Homo sapiens: one gene and its partner. The protein of the gene in region 1 purifies or fractionates together with the protein of each later gene. This does not show direct contact. Each region holds a gene or a part of one and is shown on either strand. Other genes may lie near its edges.

The links. Proteins that work in one complex are often made in the same cells at the same time.
Region 2: the proteins of RFC1 (region 1) and PRIM1 fractionate together in Homo sapiens (co-fractionation; one large-scale study listed by BioGRID). This does not show direct contact.

The regions. Positions count from the first base shown.
Region 1 is NC_000004.12:39,299,662-39,304,948, reverse strand, and holds part of RFC1 (replication factor C subunit 1), read left to right. Parts: intron 1-20; coding exon 21-135; intron 136-1,797; coding exon 1,798-1,889; intron 1,890-2,074; coding exon 2,075-2,212; intron 2,213-2,353; coding exon 2,354-2,449; intron 2,450-2,572; coding exon 2,573-2,671; intron 2,672-4,534; coding exon 4,535-4,689; intron 4,690-4,810; coding exon 4,811-4,928; intron 4,929-5,287. UniProt on the Homo sapiens protein: Subunit of the replication factor C (RFC) complex which acts during elongation of primed DNA templates by DNA polymerases delta and epsilon, and is necessary for ATP-dependent loading of proliferating cell nuclear antigen (PCNA) onto primed DNA.
Region 2 is NC_000012.12:56,741,431-56,745,823, forward strand, and holds part of PRIM1 (DNA primase small subunit), read right to left. Parts: intron 2,694-4,393; coding exon 2,635-2,693; intron 1,667-2,634; coding exon 1,557-1,666; intron 408-1,556; coding exon 316-407; intron 147-315; coding exon 5-146; intron 1-4. UniProt on the Homo sapiens protein: Catalytic subunit of the DNA primase complex and component of the DNA polymerase alpha complex (also known as the alpha DNA polymerase-primase complex - primosome/replisome) which play an essential role in the initiation of DNA synthesis.

The sequences.
Region 1 (5,287 bases):
GTTTCCAATATTTTGATTAGGAGTTGGGATACAGCTACGTGGAACTGAATGCAAGTGACACCCGGAGTAAGAGCAGTTTGAAGGCGATTGTTGCTGAGTCACTGAACAATACCAGCATCAAAGGCTTTTATTCAAGTATGTGGCTTTTTGACCTCCTGTTGTTGTTATATAAGAAAAATATGTTCATTTCAATGTTCAGTAACCAGTATTGAACACAGGTTGTGTGCCAAGCACCCTACTAAATTCTGGGGCTAACAAGAGAATAAGAAAGCCGTCTGACATCACTCTTATGGGGCAGTACTTACCCTTTCGTAGGTCTTAGAGGTTTCTAAGAATGTGATAAAAATGTGTACATGCACATATTCGTTTTTCATGATTTTAGAGGATTCACAGGTGAATCCTGTAAAGAGAGAAAGAAAATAAAAAACCATGTGTAATGCAGTGTGACTTATTACCTCATTACCTTATTAACCTCACTCTGCATGTATGTAATAAAGTATGTAATACAGAGTGAGGTAATAAGGCCAGCAGATGAAGAAGTAATTATGCTTGGGGCATTGAGTTAAAGGGGTGATAATTGTTTTGAAAGACCTCAAAGAATGAGAAAGAAAACTATTTGGAGGTGGAAGAGGTCACTGCAGGCAAAGGTAGTAAAAGAGAAGACAGTGTGCAAATGCCCACTGTGTTTCAGGTTGTAGCTAGTGGTCCTCTATGGCCAGAGTTCATGGAAAATAAGATGCTCAAGTTAAGGACCGCACAGTGCCTATTTAGAGTCTATGGTGTGTTGTTTTGTCACCTGAATTCTTGGTGCCTTCACATTGTTCAAAATAATTTGCTCAGGAAATGTCACTCTTAGACGTGGCTGGTGGGAGGGTAGATTGGTACAACTCTGGAGAGAGTCCAGCAATATTTCTCAAATTACACATACCGTCTAGCCCAGAAATTCCAATTGCTGGAATTTAGCTATTATTTTATATGTGCAAAGTGGCATATATATGCCATATAGATAAGGATAGTCATTTAGTATGACATAATAGAAAAAAGCTTGGAAGCATCCTATATATTTCATTAATGGTGATTAAGTAAAGTGTGTGATACAAGTGTAGAATGGAGTATTAAATTGCCTTAAAAAATGAAGTGTTCTGTATCTGTAAGATAAAGAATGAATCACCAAAATACATAAAATGACAAAACTGGCTGGGCATGTTGGCTCACGCCTGTAATCCCAGCACTTTGGGAGGCTGAGGCGGACAGATCACCTGAGGTCAGGAGTTTGAGACCAGCCTGGTCAACATGGTGAAACACCGTCTCTACTAAAAATACAAAAATTAGCTGGGTGTGGTGGCGTGCGCCTGTAATCTCAGCTACTTGGGAGGCTGAGGCAAAAGAATTGCTTGAACCCGGGAGGCGGAGGTTGCAGTGAGCCAATATCGTGCCATTGCACTCCAGCTTGGGCAACGAGTGAAACTCTGTCTCAAAAAAAAAAAAATTCAAAACTCAGTTGTATATTTTTATGCACATATGTGTACAATATCTCTTAAAGGACATATAAGAGACTGTTGTTTGCCTCTGGGAAGGGAATTGGGGTCTGCAGGGGAAGGGGTGGCAGGGAGAGTTTCTCTTCTCTGCATATTCTTTTTTTTTTTTTTTCTTTAACAACACTCTGTAGTCCAGTGCTGCATATTCTTGTAGCTTTTGAAGTTTAATATCTGTTACATAATTTTCTACAGAGCAGCAGTTTTTGAGCAATTGTTATTTTGTTTTTGTCTCATCCCATTGCTCCTCAACCTGGGTCAGATGGAGCAGCCTCTTCAGTAAGCACGAAACATGCTCTCATCATGGATGAAGTAGATGGCATGGCAGGCAATGAGGATAGGGGAGGAATTCAGGTAATTCAAGTGCTGTATTTTTGCAGTTTCACTGTTGATAATTTAGATTGTTAGAACATTGTCATTCTCTCATACTTAGGGCAGTTAAGGCATGTTGCTGAGGAGATTTTTAGAACCTAAAATAGCTTGTGTGGTATTTGTCATTTTTAAAATAATTATTTTTGTGTTGCAAACTTGCCTTTCAGGAATTAATTGGCCTGATAAAACATACTAAAATTCCCATTATTTGTATGTGCAATGATAGAAATCATCCCAAGATTCGCTCTCTGGTTCATTATTGTTTTGATCTTCGTTTTCAAAGACCTCGGGTTGAACAGATTAAGGTATGATGATTGAAATTTTTTTTCCATCACACTAGCCTATTTATTTAAGGGTCAATTTTTAAAAGTACCTGATAAATATTTTTAAAATACCTGATTATATGAGTTAAAAATCATTGAGGACTCCTCCCTTGTCAATTTCAGGGTGCTATGATGTCTATTGCATTTAAAGAAGGTTTAAAGATTCCCCCTCCAGCTATGAATGAAATAATTTTGGGAGCCAATCAAGATATCAGACAGGTAAATTAAATATATATCATGTAACAGTTGTTGATTATTTTTAACTAATGCTTTCAACCTTGTAGGGATGGGGAGCAACAGGATTTTCCTATCTTGACGTTGTCTTATTTGTGATTCTTTTAGGTTTTACATAATCTGAGTATGTGGTGTGCACGAAGTAAAGCATTAACCTATGACCAGGCCAAAGCTGATTCTCACAGAGCCAAAAAGGATATCAAAATGGTAAAATAAATGTCCATGTCTTAGTTACTTTCCTAAGCCAAAACACTTCTTGTTCTGTAGGTAGCTTGATAGAAGTAGTTATTATAGTTCCTTGGTATGCCTGTGGAATCCAGGGATATATAGTAGGAAGTATAGACAGCTGCTGAAAGTGTTTCTAATTCAAATGATTTTTTTCTCAAAGATTGTCAATGTCAATTATAAATTTTGAGAAAGGGATAAATTTTAAATTATACTTATGCTTCAACAATTATAAAATGGCTTTTCCAGAGTTCTTTATGTTTGGCTTTCGTGTTTGGAATGGTTTTGCACTGTTCAGAATAATCCATGTCAAATGGTTTAGTTTAATGACCTCTCTGAAACTAGAGGTATGTATCAGTTTCCTCTGTGTTGTATTTTACCTAGTTGCTAATCAGAATTTATAGTTAGAGCAATGATTAAGCAGGTTCTAAAAAAGTTAATACACTTTCTTATTTATTTAAATTTTCAAAATTTTTGGTAGAGACAGGGTCTCGCTATGTTTCCCCGACTGGTCTTGAATTCCTGGCCTCAAGTGATCCTCCTGCTGTGGCCCCCAAGGTGCCGGGATTATAGGTGTGAGCCACCACGTCTGGCCTATACGCTTTATTTTTTAGAGCAGTTGAGGCTCAGGAGTTTGAGACCAGCCTGGCCAACATGGTGATCCATGCCTGGCCTATGGATTAAAAATGGAGTGGAAGGTACAGAGAGTTCTCACATACTTCATGTCCCCCTCACACGCACAGCCTCTCCCACTGCCAACATCCCCCACCACAGTGGTATATCTGTTACAATCGATGAACCTACAGTGATACCTCATTATCACCCAGAGTCCGTAGTTGACATTAGCATTCCCTCTTGGTGTTGTACGTTGTGTGGTTTTGACAAATGACATGTATTCACCATTGTAGTATCATACAGAATAGTTTCACTGTCCTGAACATCCTCTGTGCTCTACCTGTTCATTCTTCCTTTCCGCTTTCCTCCCTACAACCCCTGGCAGCCACTGATCCTTTCACTGTGTCCATAGTTTTGCCTTTTCCAGAATGTGGTATAGTTGGAATCATGTAGTATGTGGACTTTTCCAGTTGGCTTTTTTCACGTAGTAATGGCATATAAGGTTCTTCCATAACTTTTTTGTTTTTGTTTTTGTTTTTTTTGGTTTTTTTTTTTTCGGAGTCTTGCTTTGTCACCCAGGCTGGAGTACAGTGGTGTGATCTTGGCACACTGTAGCCTCTGCCTCCCGGGTTCATGTGATTCTCTTGCCTCAGGCTTCTGAGTAGCTCGGGTTACAGGCACCTGCCACCACACCTGGCCAATTTTTTATTTTTAGTAGAGACGAGGTTTTACTATGTTGGCCAGGCTGGTCTCGAACTCCTGACCTCAAGTGATCCGCCCACCTCAGCCTCCCAAAGTGCTCGGATTACAGGGGTGAGCCACCATGCCCTGCCCCCCCATGTCTTTTCATGGCTTGATAGCTCACTTCTTTTTAATGTTGAATAATATTACATTGTGTGAATGTACCACAGTTAAATTGTTTATTTACCTACTAAAAGGACATCTTGGTTGCTTACAACTTTTGGTAATTATAAATAAAACTGCTTGTAAACATCCTGTGCAGATTTTTGTGTGAACATAGTTTCATTTGGGTGAATACCAAGAAGCGTGGTTGCTGGATCGCGTGGTAAGAGTATGTTTAATTTTGTAAGAAACTACCAAACGGTACAGTTTTGCATTCCCACCAGCAATGAATGGAATTCCTCTTGTTCCATATCCTCGTTAGCATTTGGTGATGTTACCGTTTTGAATTTTGGCCATTCTAATAGGTGTGTCCCTCTCTTTTTTCAGGGCCCATTTGATGTTGCCCGGAAAGTGTTTGCAGCTGGAGAGGAGACTGCTCACATGTCACTTGTGGACAAGTCAGATCTCTTTTTTCATGATTATTCAATAGCACCCCTCTTCGTCCAGGAAAATTACATACACGTGAAGCCTGTAGCAGCAGGGTGAGTGTCCAGAGCTGGTGAGAGGTGTGCTTAGTATCCAGCACTGCGAAGGCTAAATACCCGTGAAGAAGGGACCTGGGGTGTGGAGAGTGGGATAATCCAGACTGGTTCTTTCCTGCAGGGGTGACATGAAAAAGCACCTGATGCTTTTAAGCAGAGCAGCAGACAGCATATGCGATGGTGACCTAGTGGACAGCCAGATCCGGAGTAAGCAAAACTGGAGTCTTCTGCCTGCGCAGGTGAGCAGAGGGCTCTCCCTAACATGCAGGCTCTGCTTTTACTAAGAGAACTAAATAGCTTTTAGCTGCTGTACTTATTTTATTTTATTTTGTTTACTTTATTTTTGAGATCGAGTCTCGCTCTGTTGCCCGGGCTGGAGTGTAGTGGTATGATCTCGGCTCACTGGAGCCTCTGCCTCCCGGGTTCAAGAGATTCTCCTGCCTCAGCCTCCTGAGTAGCTGGGACTACAGGTGCCCGCCACCATACCCAGCTAATCCTGTAGTTATTTTAAATACCAGATAAATGTTATGGCTCTTGTGGCAAAAATATAGTCTGTTACAGATTATAATACTCTGTGGTAACTATCGTCTGTTTCCTA
Region 2 (4,393 bases), on another chromosome or scaffold:
GTACCTGTTTTAGGATGAACACTAAAAGGGCTCTTCAGTAGATGATTGATTCCTTTGCTGACATTGATATCCAGCCGTGGAAAACAGTACTGGAGCATAATCTCCCACTCCAGCCAGGGTCCATATTTGTCATTTTTGATGTTATTCTAAAAGCAGATACAAGGCCAACATGAGGATCAGTAGGAACTGTTGAAGATTTCTTTAAAGAAAGTTAAAAAAACGATCTTCAACCATCTTTAACTGACTAGGCAAAGCAATCAATTTAATTAAGAATTGCATTATTATATCTGTAATACAGATTTCAGTGGCATATACCTGATATCTGCTGGCTACTTTCTTCAAGTGCTCCCAACGCTGAAGTGAATTGTGAGACTTTTGGAAGCTTTGTTGAAGTTCATCATGAATTGGTGATGGGTCATTAAGGAACAGACTCATTTAGGGAACATCAATGAACAATTTAGTTTTAAGTATGTATTACCACAAGGGTGTCTTACAAATATTCAGAAAGTAGTTATTAACATTTCTTGAAATATAAATGTTGACTGGGCGTGGTGGCTCATGCCTGTACTCCCAGCACTTTGGGAGGCAGAGGTGGGTGGATCACGTGAGGTCAGGAGATCGAGACCAGCCTGGCCAACATGGTGAAACCCCATCTCTACTAAAAATAGAAAAATCAGCAGGGCATGGTGGTGCACATCTGTAATCCTAGCTACTCTGGAGGCTGAGGCAGGAAAATTGCTTAAATCTGCAAGGTGAAGGTTGCAGTGAGCTGAGATTGTGCCACTGTGCTACAGCCTGGGCAACAGAGTGAGACTCCATCTCAACAACAAAACAACCCACCCCACAAATGTTAAACTCAACAGCTGTATCCGGCCGGGCACAGTGGCTCATGCCTGTATTCCCAATATTTTGGGAGGCTGAGGTGGGTGGATCATTTGAGACCAGCTTGGCTGACATGGTGAGACCCCGTCTCTATAAAAACACAAAAATTAGCTGGGCGTGGTGGCGTGTGCCTGCAGTCCCAGCTATTTGGGAGGCTGAGGCAGGAGAATTGTTTGAACCCGGGAGGCGGAGGTTGCAGTAAGCCAAGATCACACCACTGCACACTCCAGCCTGGGCAACACAGTATAAGACTCCGTCTTAAAAACAACAACAACAACAAAAAAACCCCAAACCAAACCAACACCAGTTGTATCATTGAAATCTTCCCCTGTAAAAATACAGTGATGATATAACAGAAAGAATGCCAAAATAACTATAAGGTATGATGTAAAGTTTTCCCTGGTCTGCATGTATTTTGACTATGTAATTCACCATTCTTTAGCTGTTAATTCTAGGACCAACTTCCAAAATGAGAAAACTGATTTGCAACATGGCCCCATTTTTTATTATGTTCCAGACCAGAGATACTAAAATCCAGAAATACAGGAGATATTTTGTGTAAAAAAGATTAAACTTATAAGTATATGAGAACTTACAAGCAGACATGTCTAACATTTATAATATCACAGATCAAAACAACTAGCTCACACAGAAATGATCACGGGAAAGGATATTTTCAGGAACAAGGGCTAAAATCTTATCCCAGCTTTCTTTATTTTCGAGAATATCTTGATTAACCAAGGCATATTCTTCAAAGTATTTTTTTATTATGTTTATAGATTTTCTGTAAGAACAACAATAACAACAGAGTCCCAACACTATCAGTAACACATATGCCACATAGGTATTGCTGCCATTGTGGGGAAAACTACTGCTTATTTTCATGACATTTTCAGAACTTAACTAGGTAAAATGGGAATACTACCCTGTGCAGGGTTATGATAATTAAATGAGACACTTTTAAGGGAAAAGAACCTGACATAGAACCTGGCACAGAATGGGTATACAAGAAATGTTTACTTTTTAAACCTCACAACTTAGAAGGTTAATATACGCAATAAGGGTAGAAAGTAACCAACCCAGGACACCATAATACATCAGTAGTAGAATGTGGGATGCAGCCTACACTTTCCACTGTGAATTGCTTGTATTAATATCTCAACAATCATATAATGTTTGCAGTTTACAAATATGCATCACATTTACTCTTTCACTTAATCATTGATACAACTGTGAGACAGGTAGAGTGCATGCTGTTCTCCCCATCATAGAGATAAGGAAATGGAGGCAGCAATATTTTGTCAATATTTTATCAAGATCATAGTAAGTGGCAGAATAGGAATTTTTACTCCTAATATAAGGCTTTTTCCACTATCCTAGAGAAGTAGTGAATTCAGTGGAAAAAGCATTGGAGTAGGCTTTACAGTCAGGCAGACCAGGGCATGAATCCTAAATTTAACAACTAACTTGTCGTGTGATGCCAAGCTCATTATAAAATCTCTCTAAAACTCATTTTCCTTATCTATAAATGGAGATACCATCAAGTCTCTTGTGGGGTTTTTTTGAAGAGCAATGAGAACATCTGTAAAGCACCTTTTAGGAATACTGCAGCATAAAATAGGCACTCAATTAACCATAGCTATTATTATTATAAAATGCTACCCAGCAGTGAAAATTGATAGCAAGGTAACTCTAAAGGCACATGCCGGTAAATCAGACACCTTAAAGTGCTTGGAGACTTTTCCAACAGACCTGATAAAAGGGTGAATTTTTTCACTTAGGTGAACTTTCTTTTTAACGTCTTGACCACCCTGAAAAATAAATCATTAAAAAAGAACTTCAGGTATACAATATAAATACAGTCATGTGCAGCATAACGACATTTTAGTCATGATGGACTGCATATAAGATGGTGGGCACGGTGGCTCACACCTGTAATCCCAGCATTTTGGGAGGCTGAGGTGGGTGGATCACCTGAGGTCAAGAGTTCAAGACCAGCCTGAATCCCATCTCTATTAAAAATACAAAAAATTAGCTGGGCATGGTGGCGCATGCCTGTAATCCTAGCTACTCGGGAGGCTGAGGCAGGAGAGTCGCTTGAACTCGGGAGGCAGAGGTTGCAGTGAGCCGAGATCGCATCATTGCACTCTAGCCAGGGTGACAAGAGCGAGACTCCATCTCAAAAAAAAAAGAAAAAGATGGTGGGTCCCATAAGATTGCAATACTGTATTTTTACTGTGACTTTTCTATGTTTAGGTATGTTTAGCTACATCAGTACCTATCATTGTGTTACAATTGCCTACAGTATTGAGTACAGTAACATGCTGTACAGGTTGTAGCCTAGGAGCAATAGGTTATACCATATAGCCTAGATGTATAGTAGGCTATACCATCTGGGTCTGTGTAAGTATACTCCATGACTTTTGCAAAGTGATGTATTTCTCAGGATGTATCCTTATTGTTAAGTGATGCATAATTATAATTAAAACATTTCTAGGGCTGGACGCAGTGGCTCACACTTGTAATCCCAGCACTTTGAGAGGCTGAGGCGGGCGGATCACCTGAGGTCAGGAGTTCGAGACCAGCCTGACCAATATGATGAAACCCTGTTTCCACCTGCCAACACGCCTGGCTAAATACAAAAATTAGCCGGGTGTGGTGGCAAGTGCCTGTAATCCCAGCTACTTGGGAGGCTGAGACAGGAGAATTGCTTGAACCCGGGACGCGGAGGTTGTGGTGAGCCAAGATAGCGCCACTGCACTCCAGCCTGGGTAACAGAGCAAGACTCCGTCTCAAAAAAAAAAAAAAAAATTTGTAGGCTGGATGTAGTGGCTCACACCTGTAATCTCAGCATTTTGGGAGCCTGAAGTGGGAGGATAGTTTGAGTTTAGGAGTTCAAGAACACCCTGGGCAATATAGTGAGACCTTGTTTCTGCAAAAATTAAAAAATTGGCTGGGCGTGGTGGCGCATGCCTTTAGTCCCAGCTACTCAGGAGGCTGAGGTAGAAGGGTCACTTGAGACCAGGAGGTCAAGGCTGCAGTGAGCTGTGGTCACGTTACCGTACTCCAGCCTGGGTGACAGGGTGAGACCGTGTCTCAAAACAAAACAAAACAAAACAAAAAAAACCAAAAAAACAAACCAAAACCAAAACCAAACTTTAACATGTTCTATTATTTTATATATAATAAATCTATTTTATCTATTATTTTACATATGCCACAAAGCAAGATATTTATAGCAAAATAAAATGAAATATCTTAAAACATGTAGCTACTATGACTTTAAATGATCTATTGGTAAGATCATTTACTCTGCAATGTGAATGCCATTAAAGATAAGTTTTAGGCCAGTGTGGTGGCTCATGTCTGTAATCCCAGCACTTTGGGAGGCTGAGGTGGGTGAATCACCTGAGGCTAGGAGTTCTAGGCCAGCCTGGCCAACATGGCGAAACCCAGTCTTTACTAAAAATACAAAATTTAGCTGGGCACAGTGGCAGGAGCCTGTAGTCCC